Regions from separate parts of the Homo sapiens genome. Here regions 2 and 3 are each linked to region 1. Evidence: fine-mapped expression QTL. A gene starts in region 1. Each other region holds a variant in brackets. All regions are shown on one strand. Distances are from middle to middle.

Region 1 (4,352 bases):
CTTCCTACGGGGTGAAGTCCAAACCCCTTAGTTCAGCATAGAAGACTCTTCCCAACTGGTAACAACCTACCTTAGTTTGATCTTCCATCCCTCCCTTTTATAGTCTGCATGAAGACATATTGACATTTTTATCATTTCCTAAAAAGTCATGTTCTTTCATACGCCCCCCGCCCCACCATACTCTTGCAAAAACTTTCCTCTGCTTAGAATGTATCTACTATTCTACTTGAAAAATCACCGATGTAGCCCAGTTCAAATATTATTTTCTCTAAAAATCTTCCCCAACATCTCTCAGATGCGCTTAGCATATTTGGTCACCTTCTGCCCCTCTACAATCAACTGTGTGGTGTTTATAGGAGTTCCATAAACGGTGGCTAAACTTTGAAGGGGCATACACATGCCGAAGTGAGGAGCTGGCCAAAACCACAGTTAAAGACCATCAGGATATTCCACTCACCTAATGCAGGTCGGTAATGACTGACAATTTATATTAACATTTAAAAATACAGTCTTATTTACATTTACAAACACAAAAAAAAATCACAGATTAATAAAACTCCGGATGTATAATCGTCTTCACCTTAAACATCGGTGAGTGTTAACCATCTAGAATACCACCGGAAAAGTAGTTTTAACCAGAAGAAATTTGGCAACTTCCCATTCAAAACATTGTCAGAGTTTCAACATTTCCACACTGGGGCAAATTTACTTAATTTCAAATAAAGCAGCCAAAGATAAGAAAAACAAGTAATTAGTTTCCTGAAGGTCAACAGTCCTGCGTTGAAATCTTCTATCATCACCTTTGAATAACTTTCAATCAATGATTTAGTAAAAACTCCCATTCTCCATCATCCTCTGTCGCTGATAGAGAAAATACAGCCATGCAAACAATTATATCATACAAAATCCAAAATAAACAACTTGTTTCCAGAAAGACGCCAGCGTGCTGACAATCTGCTTCCACTATGTTTGGGCATCTCCAATACAAGTATCTTACATAGTCAAGGGCAGTTTCACAATTCAAAAACGATTTCACACAAATGATTTAATTCCTACAATAATCCTGTGAGTTCAAAAGAGCAGGGATTATCTGTCCGGATTTAACACAGTACGAACCCAATAAAAACACAGATTTTTTAAGAATGGTTTGGCTATAGAAAGGTAGCACATCGTTTACAAAATATTCTTACTACAAAAATGACCCAAGAGAAATGAGCGTCCTCCCACCCACCTTTATTCCACCATTAAATTTAGCTGTGTTGACCCAAGGATACCATGAACGTCAAAATTTCAAATTATAACCTGCAGCAAAAGTTTCATCTCTCAGTCTCTTTCCAAGCGACATTAACTCCACGAGCGAGAGCCAGCTCCCTCCCTGCAGGCGTTTGGAGGACTGAACGCCCGCGGGCGCGCCCAGCCTGCAGGGCTCCGGCCCGCCGAGGTCAGCGCCCGCCCCAGAGCGGGTTTCGGGGCGTCTGGGGGACCCGGGGTCGCGCGAGGCGGCGAGGGATGGGGGGACGCTGGGAACGGCTCCATCGAACAGGACACGGAGGAAGCGGTGCCGGGCAGAGGACCCGGGCCAAGAAGGGCTTGGGGCGCCAAACCCCGCGCCTCGGGTGCGACCCCGGTCCGCACACACCTGGAGCGGCCGCGCCCCCCGACCCCGGGTCCGATCCCCAGGCCGGGCCCCTCCACTCCCAGGCACCACAGGTTCACTCCGAGCGCCCCGTCCCTAGGAAGCAGCCGTCCCAACCGACCCGGGGCGCGGACACCCACCTGGCCGCGCCGCACCGAGGACTGGGCCCACCAGGCCAAGCAACAGCAACCACCGGACACGAAGGGTCCCCGAGGGAAAGCGCGCGCCAGACCCCATCTCGGCCGATTCCGCAGGTTCCTCTCAGCACTCGGTCGCCTCCACCTCCGCCTCTTCCATCATTTTCCAACCCTGCCGGGGCCCCAAGTCTGGCCGGGAAGCGCGCGCGCCCGACGAGCACGCGCGCCCGACGAGCACGCGCGCGGCACTGACGCAACTGAGCCCTCGGTCCGAGCTCGCTCCCGACATCGCCTAGCTGCGCTGACGTAGGGAAAAATCCAGTCCCCGGCGCGAGAATAGGATTTCTAAACCGGCGGTGGCAACCAGCACTAGTCGGCCCGCCAGTCATATCCGCCCCGCCCCGTCGGCTGCCGGGCACGCCCACCTAGGGGGGTCGACGGATCCGATTGGAGAACGCATTCGGCGCAAAAGAAGGAGGAGCATGAGACCCAGAAGAGGAATCGAGAAGCAGAAGCAGAGGGCGGAGTAGCCCCGCCCGTCTGCTCGACCTTTTCTAGTTGGTTGGCGGAGGTGCGCGGAGCGTCGAGCTGCGCGTCCATTGGCTGTTTGGCGGGGCTACGCGGGCGGGGCTACGCGGAAAGGCCTGACCACGCAGTTCTTGGGTCTGTGCTGCTGGCCTGGGGTTGTGGTTGAGGCCGGGTCTCCGCTCCTGTGCCCGGGAAGATGGTGCTAGGTGGTTGCCCGGTTAGTTACTTACTTCTGTGCGGCCAGGCGGCTTTGCTGCTGGGGAATTTACTTCTGCTGCATTGTGTGTCTCGGAGCCACTCGCAAAATGCGACCGCTGAGCCTGAGCTCACATCCGCTGGCGCCGCCCAGCCGGAGGGCCCCGGGGGTGCTGCGAGCTGGGAATATGGCGACCCCCACTCTCCGGTCATCCTCTGCTCTTACCTGTAAGCTACCAGTGGTCGAGGCGGGTGGACGTGGAGGGTGTGCCAGGAATATATGGGTGTTAAGGGAAGGCAGGGTTGGGGGGACGCTGCATTTTTTCAGACCCTGCCTCTCTGAGGTCGTTCCGGAGGCAAATATCATGAACCAGGTTTCTCACAGCCCGTGCAGAGAAAACTCTTGTGTGTCAGTGACAGAGGCTTTGAGATCCCCAAAGAGGAAAACTGGGTAGGAGTAACATCATATAGCCTCTGGAAGAAGGGCGTAAGGTTGTGCTTTCTTTGCCCTGCGCCCTTTAGCCCAAGGAGAGTATTAGTCGGTCGATTCGGTGCCAGTACTGAGTAAGGCATAAATGGAGTAAATGACTTGTCTCTGCCTACAAGGCATCTTTTAAAAAAGCAATCAATATTCTTACCGTTGCAGAATCACGCCATTTTTTAACATCTCTTTTTGATCAAACAAGAAAAGGCATTTGGGAAATGCAAAGAGGACTGAGAATACTTTGGCTTAAATTTTGCCCCCAGAATCTTGTTGTTTGCCTACTGAAGAGATGAAACCATGGCAGAAGTAGAATCCTTATAGAAACAGGACCAGAAACACCTCCCTTCTCCAACAAAAGGTTCATTTTGGTGGCTGTCCGTTTGACCTGCTGTGCTTCAGTTTAATTGGCTTGGAAAGGGGTCAGCAGGGTGAAACCGAACCCCAGAAAACTTGATGAAGAAATGTCTTTTGCCCGTTTTGATTACGTGCATGCAAACAGCGATTTGCAAAGACCGTATGATGATGATCATGATCTTACTGGTGAATTACAGACCTGATGAATTTATAGAATGTGAAGACCCAGTGGATCATGTTGGAAATGCAACTGCATCCCAGGAACTTGGTTATGGTTGTCTCAAGGTGAGTTTTTGTTTTGTCGTAAGAGCAAACCCTTCGATAACGAAATAGGAATGTCTGAATGCTATTACATAAAAGTATAAGAGGTACAAAGTTTTTTGAAGAATTTCCTCAGAAAGACCGTTACTGGAAATTTCCAGTATGGCCAGGGTCAGTGACTGAACAAGATATTTGGTTTCCTTATGAAGGAGCAATCTCTGTGCTAAAACCACCCAGGTGCAAAGACCAACCTGTCTTTGGTTCCTTTGGCCACTGACAGATTTTGAAACTAAAATGTCACCCCTGACTCTCCTTCAAGGCATGAACCTTTCCTGAAAGAGCAAAAGGAAGTCTGTGCACTTTGCAACACTGGTGATGGATTGGGCAGTATCTTTGTTACACATGCATTTGGGGCAGAGCTTTTCTTGCCAATGACATTTCTTTTCTCCAGGCAAACAGGTTCCACCATGTCCGTAGGAGACAGATAGAGTCTACCGGTATATGTCTTTGTAGGACATTAAAGCGTTCCAGCGGAAGCCATTGGTTAACAGTGGCTTCTTGGAATGGAAAAACGCTATTAAGGTTTATTAGTAATATCCCTAAAGCTGAGTGTACAGTTCCTAATCAATCTCTCAAAATAACCAATGAAGTTCATGTATCTCCTCCCCACCATGGACTCGCCATCCTATTATGCCACATAATGCAAGTCAAGATTTGGTCAGATGTTAAGAGAATGATGGGAAGGCATGTTTTGTAC
Region 2 (4,352 bases), 93 kb before region 1:
TCGATAGAGATAAATCACAAAGTGACATTAAGGGGAAAAACAGGTTGCAGATATATGTGCAAATTATCAAATAAAACGTTCTTAAAAGTTTTAAAACATTAAAAAATTACATATTGCTTAGGGATACATGCAGATCAATAAAAGTATATCATGATCTAAACACTCAATAAAAGTATATCATGATCTAAACACTCCCTAATACACTTGCAGAACAGTGACTATCAGTCCTACAGCTTAGACAATTAGGCCGATCCAAGAGCTCAGCACCAGGTCTTTGGTAACATCCCATAGGGAGATGGAGACAGGTATTGAAAATAGGAAAAGAGCAGACACAGAAAAAAGCAGTGATAGCATACGTCCCATGTCATTTCCCAATCCTGGTTGCTAGGCAAGGCATTCCTAATGTCCAGCTGTCTTTTTCTGTGTCCTCTGAGCCAAGGACTCCGCTGGTTTTCCTTTAAAGAACTCAGGGGGCAGGGCACAGTGGCTCATACCTGTAATCCCAGCACTTTGGGAGGCCAAGGCGGGTGGATCACTTGAGGTCAGGAGTTCAAGACCAGCCTGGCCAATGCGGTGAGACCCCGTCTCTATGAAAAATACAAAAATTAGCCAGGCGTGGTGGTACACACCTGTAATCCCAGCTACTCGGGAGGCTGAGGCACGAAATCATTTGAAACTGGGAGGCAGAGGTTGCAATGAGACGCAATTGTGCCACAGTACTCCACCCCGGGCAACAGAGCAAGGCTCTGTCTCGAAAACAAAAACAAAAAACTCAGGGACCACCTACAATACTCTTGAATTCTTAAGAAGGTATCTATGTTTCTAGCTATAGCTATATAACTGTGTTTTTAATCCTTAAGCATTTGATCCTTTAATACAGTAAAGAAAAATAATTTTTCATTTTATACTTACAACTTCTCTGGGAGGTGTCACTGGAGAAACATGTCGAGGAACACTCCCCGGCTGTCTAGAAGGGTTTGCTTGATTTTTGCCATCTGACCTGAAAGATACAATTACTTTTGATCTAAATTAAGATAAAAACATTTCTACATGAAATATTACACACATTTTGCATTTTCCCAAATACAGAATAATGATGTTGGTAGTGGTGGGGATGATAATCATGATACGGTTTAAATTTTTAGGGCATTTTAACAGCTTTCACGTATTTTTAATCCTTATGGTATTAGAAAGCATTACTAACCACATTTTATAATTAAACTGAAATTTTAAGAAATTGTGAAATTTGGTCAATTAGGCCAATGTTCCCTAACTTTTCTCAAGTCTTCCTAAAATCAGAGAAGAGTAAAAGCATATTCTCAGGTTGCCAAGTAGTCATTTTAAAAATTAGGAAATCCAAGGGTAGTGAATGGATTGGCTGGAAAGGTAATAGGTAAGTTTTAGACATGCTGAAGTGACAGCAAATCAGTGCAGTGGAGATGTATGAAAGATAGCTGTAGTTATGGAACTCAAACTTCAAAAATGCAGATGGGGGAGTTATTTGCATAGACTGGTCAGTTGGAAGTATGATACGAAGTATCTACTTAGTCCTCTATCAGAAATTGGTGTTAAGCAAAATGAACCCTGAGGGTCACTTTCAGCAGCCTAAAGGCTGACCAACATAAGCCTTTCTCCTCCCCATTAAAAGAGGTGGCTTGGTCACCACCACCTTTCAACCCATGCTAATCATGTCAAAAGGTCAGAGAAATAACTTAGAACCCTATTTTAGAGGATTACCAATCTCTGGTGATATGACTATCAGCATTAATACTTTATAAATTATTTAATATAGGCTGAGCGTGGAGGCTCACTCCAGTAATCCCTGCACTTTGGCAGGCTGAGGCAGATGGATGGCTTCAAAAAGTTCAAGACCAGCCCGGGCAACATGGCGAAACCCCATCTCTACAAAAAAATATAAAAATTAACTGGGTGTGGTGGTGTGCCTGTAATCCCAACTACTTGGAAGGCTGAGGCAGGGGGAATCACCTGAGCCCAGGGAAGTCGAGATTCTGTCTCAGAAAATGTATGTATATATTTAATATAGGAATTAAAAGAAAAAAATCTAAGTACTCATATGTTTGTGATCTCTTCTTTCTGAAGTAGCTTCTCCACAGTTGATCCCTCTTGATGAAGATAAAAATAGCACAGACAATAAGGGGAACAATTAGGAAGAAGAAGACCAGAAGTCCGTCCCTCAATGCAGTATTCATTTCTAGAGAGAAGAATTTTACATCAACAGTCACCAAACTCATACTAGGCAGAAAATACTAGATGATTATAAACACTTTACATTAATTTTCACATTACTCAAAAATCAAACTGATATTAATTGAATATATTGAGAAGTCTTCCACAAAGTTCATTCCTGTCCGCTTTACTTCTGCCTTCACAAAAATAACCACTTTTATTAGTTTCTTCTGTAACCTTACAGTATTTCTTCGAGCAAACAATCAAGAACAAAATACGTTTCTACTGTCAACACTTTCTTACACAAAAGGTAGCA[T/C]ACTATTTATATACCATTTGGTGCATCAGTTTTTTTCCACTTATCTGTACATAGTGGACCTCCTCGTTTTCCATACAGCTATATGAAACTCCATTGTGAAGATGTTCTAGAGTTTATTTAACTTGTACCCTACTGATAAACACTTATATTTTTCCAATCTTTTGCTACTACCAAAAAAACTGCTATAATGAATAACCTTGCACATATGTTGTATCATATTAGTGCAGGTATAATAACTACAGAATAATTTCCCTAAAGCAGAAATGCTGTATCAATAAATAAGTGCATTCATCATTTCTTTTAGGTATTGTCAAATTGTCTTTCAATAGTAATGGTTACAATTTATAAGAATATTACAAGCAATATATAAGAATTCCCCATAGCCTCACCCACAGAGCCAAATTTCCGGATTTTTGCCAACCAGGCAGGTGAAAAATTTTCTCTTATAGAATTTTAATTTACATTTTTTTATACTATGAGTTGATAATTTTTTTTTCTTTTCTTTTCCCGAGATGGAGTCTCACCCTGTTGCCCAGGCTAGTGCAATGGCACGATCTCCACTCACTGCAACCTCTGCCTCCTGGGTTCAAGCGATTCTGCTGCCTCCACCTCCCGAGTAGCTGGGATTACAGGTATGCGCCACCACGCCCAGCTAATTTTTTTGTATTATTAGTAGAGACAGGTTTCACCATGTTGGCCAGGATGGTCTCCAACTCCTGACCTCATGATCTGCCCGCCTCGGCCTCCCTAAGTGCTGGGATTACAGGCGTGAGCCACCGTGCCTGGCCTCACTTTTTTCTTAAGGAAACATTATTTATTTTTTTCTGCTCAGTCCTTTGACTGTTTTTCTACTGGACTCTTGCTTTTTTCTTCTTAATTTCTAAAAGTTCTTTATATATTAGAGAGATTAGCTTTGTCCATGATACAAGTTGGAAATATTTTCCCCATTTTAACCTATGGCACTATGCTTTTCTCCACGGAAAAGTTTATTATTTTTGTATAGTTGAATTTATCAATCTTATTTTTACGCCTTCTAGATTTTAAGTTTCATTAGAACTTTTACAAATTCTTTAAGTATTTTATCTGTTCTGTGTTCTTTTGAGAAACAATATAGTAGATATAAACGGGAGTGGTAAACTGATTCATAATTTTAAGTTTGTAAAAGAACCAGAAATTTCTGTAAAAAGTTGTATAAAACTGGCCGGGCGCAGTGGCTCACACCTGTAATCCCAGCGCTTTGGGAGGCCGAGGCAGGCGGATCACAAGGTCAGGAGATCGAGACCATCCTGGCTAACATGGTGAAGCCCCGTCTCTACTAAAAATACAAAAAAAAATTAGCTGGGCGTGGTGGCAGGCGCCTGTAGTCCCAGCCACTCGGGAGGCTGAGGCAGGAGAATGGCATGAACCCGGGAGGCGGAGCCGAGATTGCACCACTGCACTCCAGCGTGGGCAACAGAGCGAGACTCCATCTCAAAAAAAAAAAAAGTTGTATAAAACTATATGAAACAATATTTATCCCAACTGAAAATCAAAATACAGTTGGCCCTGGAACAATGTGGGTTTGAACTGTGCAGGTCCACTTATATGCAGGCTATCTTGTGTTTCTGCCACCCCTGAGACCAACCTCTCCTCTTCCTCCTCCTCCTCAGCCTACTCTACAGGAAGATGATGAGGATGAAGGTCTTTATGATAATCTACTTCCACTTAATGAATAGTATATATATTTTCTCTTATGATTTTCTTAATAAATTTGCTTTTCTCTAGCTTGCTTTATTATAATAATACAGTATATAATACATATAACAGACAAAATCTATGGTAATCAACTGTTTATGTTATTGGTAAGTCT
Region 3 (4,000 bases), 990 kb before region 1:
GGTAAAACCCCATCTCTCTAAAAATACAAAAATTAGTCGGGTGTGGTGGTAGGTGCCTGCAATCCCAGCTACTCAGGAGGCTGAGGCAGGAGAATTGCTCAAACCCAGGAGGCAGAGGTTGCAGTGAGCCGAGATCATGCCACTGCACTCCAGCCTGGGAGACAGAGGGAGACTCCGTCTCTGAAAATAAATAAATAAATAAATAAGTTATTTCACTCATCTTACATTTTTGTATTTACCACAACCCCACATTTTATTCTAGCTAGTTGATTCCTACTCAACTTTTAGGATTTGCCTTACATCAAGTTCTGCCTCATCACCAAGATTTTTACTGACTTGTAAAGCCTGCATTGATGTCATTTCTCTGAAATTCTAAAGGACATATTGTTTGAGTCACTCTTTGACATTTGTCATGTAGTGTCTTGTTATTTAACCACATGGGGAGTACTTTGCTTCTATTTCTTTCATTTCTTCATAGCACTTAGCTCTGTGTTAGGCATATTAAAAGGCTTCAAAAGGTAATTACCAAGCAGAATAATTGGTGAGACCCAGGACTGTGTCCGCATCTCTGGAATTAAACTAGCCCTTCACTCTTACTCCCTAGGAAGCTATTAATAGCTTTTTTGTTATTGTTTTGTTTTGTTTTGTTTGTTTTTGAGATAGGATCTCACTCTGTCACCCAGGCTGGAGTGCAGTGGTGCAGTCTCAGCTTACTGCAACCTCTGCCTCCCAGGTTCAAGTGATTCTCCTGCCTCAGCCTCCTGAGTAGCTGGGATTGCAGGCACCCACTGCCACACCTGGCTAATTTTTGTATTTTTAGTAGAGAGGGGGTTTGGCCATGTTGGCCACGCTGGTCTCAAACTCCTGATCTCAGGTGACCTGCCCACCTGGGCCTCCCAATGTGCTGGGATTATAGGCATGAGCCGCTGCACCTGCCTGTTGTTGCATTTTTGACTACCATTCTAGTACAGTCATTTTTCCCTTCAACCTTCTCTTATTCTGTCTTTCTCTTTGAGTAATAAATCCAGCTTATTCAATATTCAGTACCTTGAACAGAATAAATTACGCACATATATTATTTTTTTCATCCAAATTCTTACCCAGATTCAGCAGCTTTCAGTAGTCACCCATTTTATTATTAAAGCATAATTAATCAAGGATCACAATTCATAATTGCAGAAAACATAAAACTCCAGGGCTCAGAGCTCCCGAGAGAGATGAGATGGCCGAATCTCACTTCTTCCAATGGGGCACATAATTTTTTTTTCTTTTGAGACAGAGTTTGTCACCTAGGCTGGAGTGCAATGGCATGATTTCGCTCACTGCAACCTCTACTTCCTTCGTTCAAGCAATTCTCCTGCCTCAGCCTCCCGAGCAGCTGGCATTACAGGTATGTGCCACCATGCCCGGCTAATTTTTTTGTATTTTTAGTAGAGACGGGGTTTCACCATGTTGGCCAGGCTGGTCTTCAACTCCTGACCTCAGATGATCCACCTGCCTCAGCCTCCCAAAGTGCCGGGATTACAGGGGTGAGCCACCGGGCCCGGCCGGGGCACATAAATTAGTCTTAAAATCTAGGCTGTCTACTAAATATGTAACCCTTTTAAGTAGATTCCCATCATCGCCTCTGGCAATCCCATGGCTGAGGAAGTTCTTCCTCATATCAAACCTCAGTGAATCTTCAGCTGTTGTAGTCAGCCACAAAAGAAAGTGCTGTCTCTTTCATCTAGAGCTGAAATAAATTTGGCTGCAAAAATTAAGGTGAAAGGAAAATTTAACATCTCAGATCATCTGTCTAATTCT[G/A]TTTGTTGAATTTCTTGTTTGTTAAAATCTCATGCTATTCCTTCTGTAGACAAATGCCCCTATTCCCAGCCCAACTGTCAAAGGAATGATGTGACTTTGGTGGAATAGATGGAATTATTAATCAAATTCTCAATCCAACCCACCTGGAGCATCTGCTCTGAATTCATCCATAATCATTCTCTTCTGATCATTATATAATGATTACTTATCAAAGCCAACTGGTTTTAACCTGATATGAATGGAGGGCATCTTAGGGAATAAACAGTTTGAAGAGAAAGAACAAATAAAAGCTGATTTTGCAGGAGCTTGAAGGTCAGGTTGAGAAATTCACACGTCATGTGGAAACAAACAAGACAAAATGGTCTGAGCCAATGTGTTCAGAATGGATTAAGAGGAAACTTCTGGGGCCTGTGATATTTGAATTTTTGGTCAAGCTCACCCCTTCTTTGGAACCATACGGCAGACCATAAATATGAACTTCCCTAATTATAAAAAAAAGCCTGGGTGTTTCCTGGGGGAAAGTTATGGAAATTCAAAGCATTCTCTTCCTTCCTTACCCGTCTGGATCTTTTTTGGTCCAGTTCGTCAGCACCAAGTCTGAGTGGACCAGGATAGGAGGGAGCCCCAAGTTCCTGGAGACTTCGACAAATGGAAGGGCAAGATTCCTTGGCAGGACCTTTCAGATATAAATCCAGACAAATAGCATATTCTAGAAAGCTTGCAGCAGAGGAAATAACCATGGTTGTCTTTTATTTCGGCAATCCTGTGGTACAGAAATGATCTGGGAACCAAGCTTGAATTACCTGAGTGATGCACATTCATATGCCGCACACATATCTTTCTGTTAATGACCCAGTGGAAATACTGCTTATGAGTACACGGTGCAATATATGTGAAAATTACAACGCTGGACCACACATACATATAGAATATAAAATAACCTCTGTAAACTGACTGTGCAAAGAAAGGCATTACCAAAACAATTAAACATAAACTGGGGCCCGAGAATATTATCAACGGAAAAAAATTTTGATAGATAGGTAAGTAGATGGAAGGATAGAAATATATATATACATATATATATATATATACACACATATATAGAGAGAGATGATAGATACATAGATAGATGATAGAGAGATGATAGCTAGCTAGATAGATAGATGATAGATCAGTAGACAGATGATAGATAGATTTATTGATTGACCGACTCATAGAGATACAAAGCTAGATGCAGAAACCTGTGTGTGCACCTAGGTATGAGCCTGGGAGACCACAGTGCCCTAGAAAAGCATGAGGACAGACTGCCTCAGCCTGTGGGGAAACTGACTCCGTCTCTTACTCCATAAGTCAAACCCAGTAATACCTTCAAGTAAGCCACCACAGGACAGACCCCCTTCAACCTTTTTTATCCAAGGAACCCTCCACGGCTCTTTATCAGCCAGAAGTCCAGAAAAGCTGTATGAGGTTCTCTATCGGAGGTAAAGGCTGAACGAGTCTAGATTCAAACCCCATCCTTGTGCCCCCTCTTCCATCTCCATTTTCATTTCTCCTTAAGATAAAATATCCATTAAGAATGCCCTGCTTTTGTCTTCATTTTTCCCTTGAATTTTTTCTCGGGTGGAAAACACTAAAGAGCTTTAATGAGTCTTGCAATGTGAACCTCGGGTAAACTTTCCTCAGAAGGCATTGGAGAGCCAGGTACTTTCTGAGCTGAAAAGTCAAGGGAGGAGAAACAAAGAAAGTGAAAGGTGATCTGAGGCGGGGTGGTGGGTGTGGGGAGCCTCCGGGTCCCCTGGAACTACCAGGGCACAGCTGGGAGGTGGAGACTTCTTTCCACTGTCACTCTTCTCTCCCCCAAACCCCAATTTAGGATAATGGTTTGCAGAGGGGATGGTATAAAGAGGACCCACTGGGACGTGCCTAGACTTCAAACTTTTCAGCATCAGACACACTTTTAAAAATGCACGCCGGGCACGGTGGCTCACGCCTGTAATCCCAGCACTTTGGGAGGCGAAGGCGGGCAGATCACGAGGTCAAGAGATCGAGACCATCCTGGCTAACATGGTGAAACGCCGTCTTTACTAAAAATATAAAAATTAGCCAGGCGTTGTGGTGGGCGCCTGTAGTCCCAGTTACTTGGGAGGCTGAGATAGGAGACTGGCGTGAACCTGGGAGGCGGAGCTTGCAGTGAGCC

Direction of the effects. Alleles are on the strand shown, and positions count from the first base shown. SD is a standard deviation of normalised expression in the study named. Not every link is listed here.
As copies of A replace G in region 3, the expression in caudate of the gene that starts at base 1,964 in region 1 goes down (moderate effect, 0.59 SD a copy in GTEx).

The links.
Region 2: its variant is fine-mapped to the expression of ADAM9 in whole blood (INTERVAL, PIP 0.96).
Region 3: its variant is fine-mapped to the expression of ADAM9 in caudate (GTEx, PIP 0.96).

The regions. Positions count from the first base shown.
Region 1 is chr8:38,994,585-38,998,936 of GRCh38, reverse strand. ADAM9 (ADAM metallopeptidase domain 9) reads right to left here and starts at 1,964. Exons shown (of 22, transcript NM_003816.3): 1 at 1,777-1,964. The coding sequence starts at 1,873. It overlaps TM2D2 (TM2 domain containing 2), which reads left to right and starts at 2,428. Exons shown (of 4, transcript NM_078473.3): 1 at 2,428-2,724; 2 at 3,532-3,619. The coding sequence starts at 2,498. RefSeq lists a silencer at 1,328-1,757 and enhancers at 1,768-2,077, 2,088-2,137, 2,198-2,297, 2,458-2,647, 2,256-2,777 and 1 more.
Region 2 is chr8:39,087,907-39,092,258 of GRCh38, reverse strand. It overlaps ADAM9 (ADAM metallopeptidase domain 9), which reads right to left. Exons shown (of 22, transcript NM_003816.3): 19 at 2,071-2,212; 20 at 913-1,000. Among named protein-coding and RNA genes, the nearest start is that of ADAM32, 18 kb to the left of the region's middle. The variant T/C (reference allele first, on the strand shown) is at 2,504.
Region 3 is chr8:39,981,131-39,985,130 of GRCh38, reverse strand. IDO2 (indoleamine 2,3-dioxygenase 2) reads right to left here. Exons shown (of 11, transcript NM_194294.5): 5 at 2,361-2,479. Among named protein-coding and RNA genes, the nearest start is that of IDO2, 48 kb to the right of the region's middle. The variant G/A (reference allele first, on the strand shown) is at 1,804.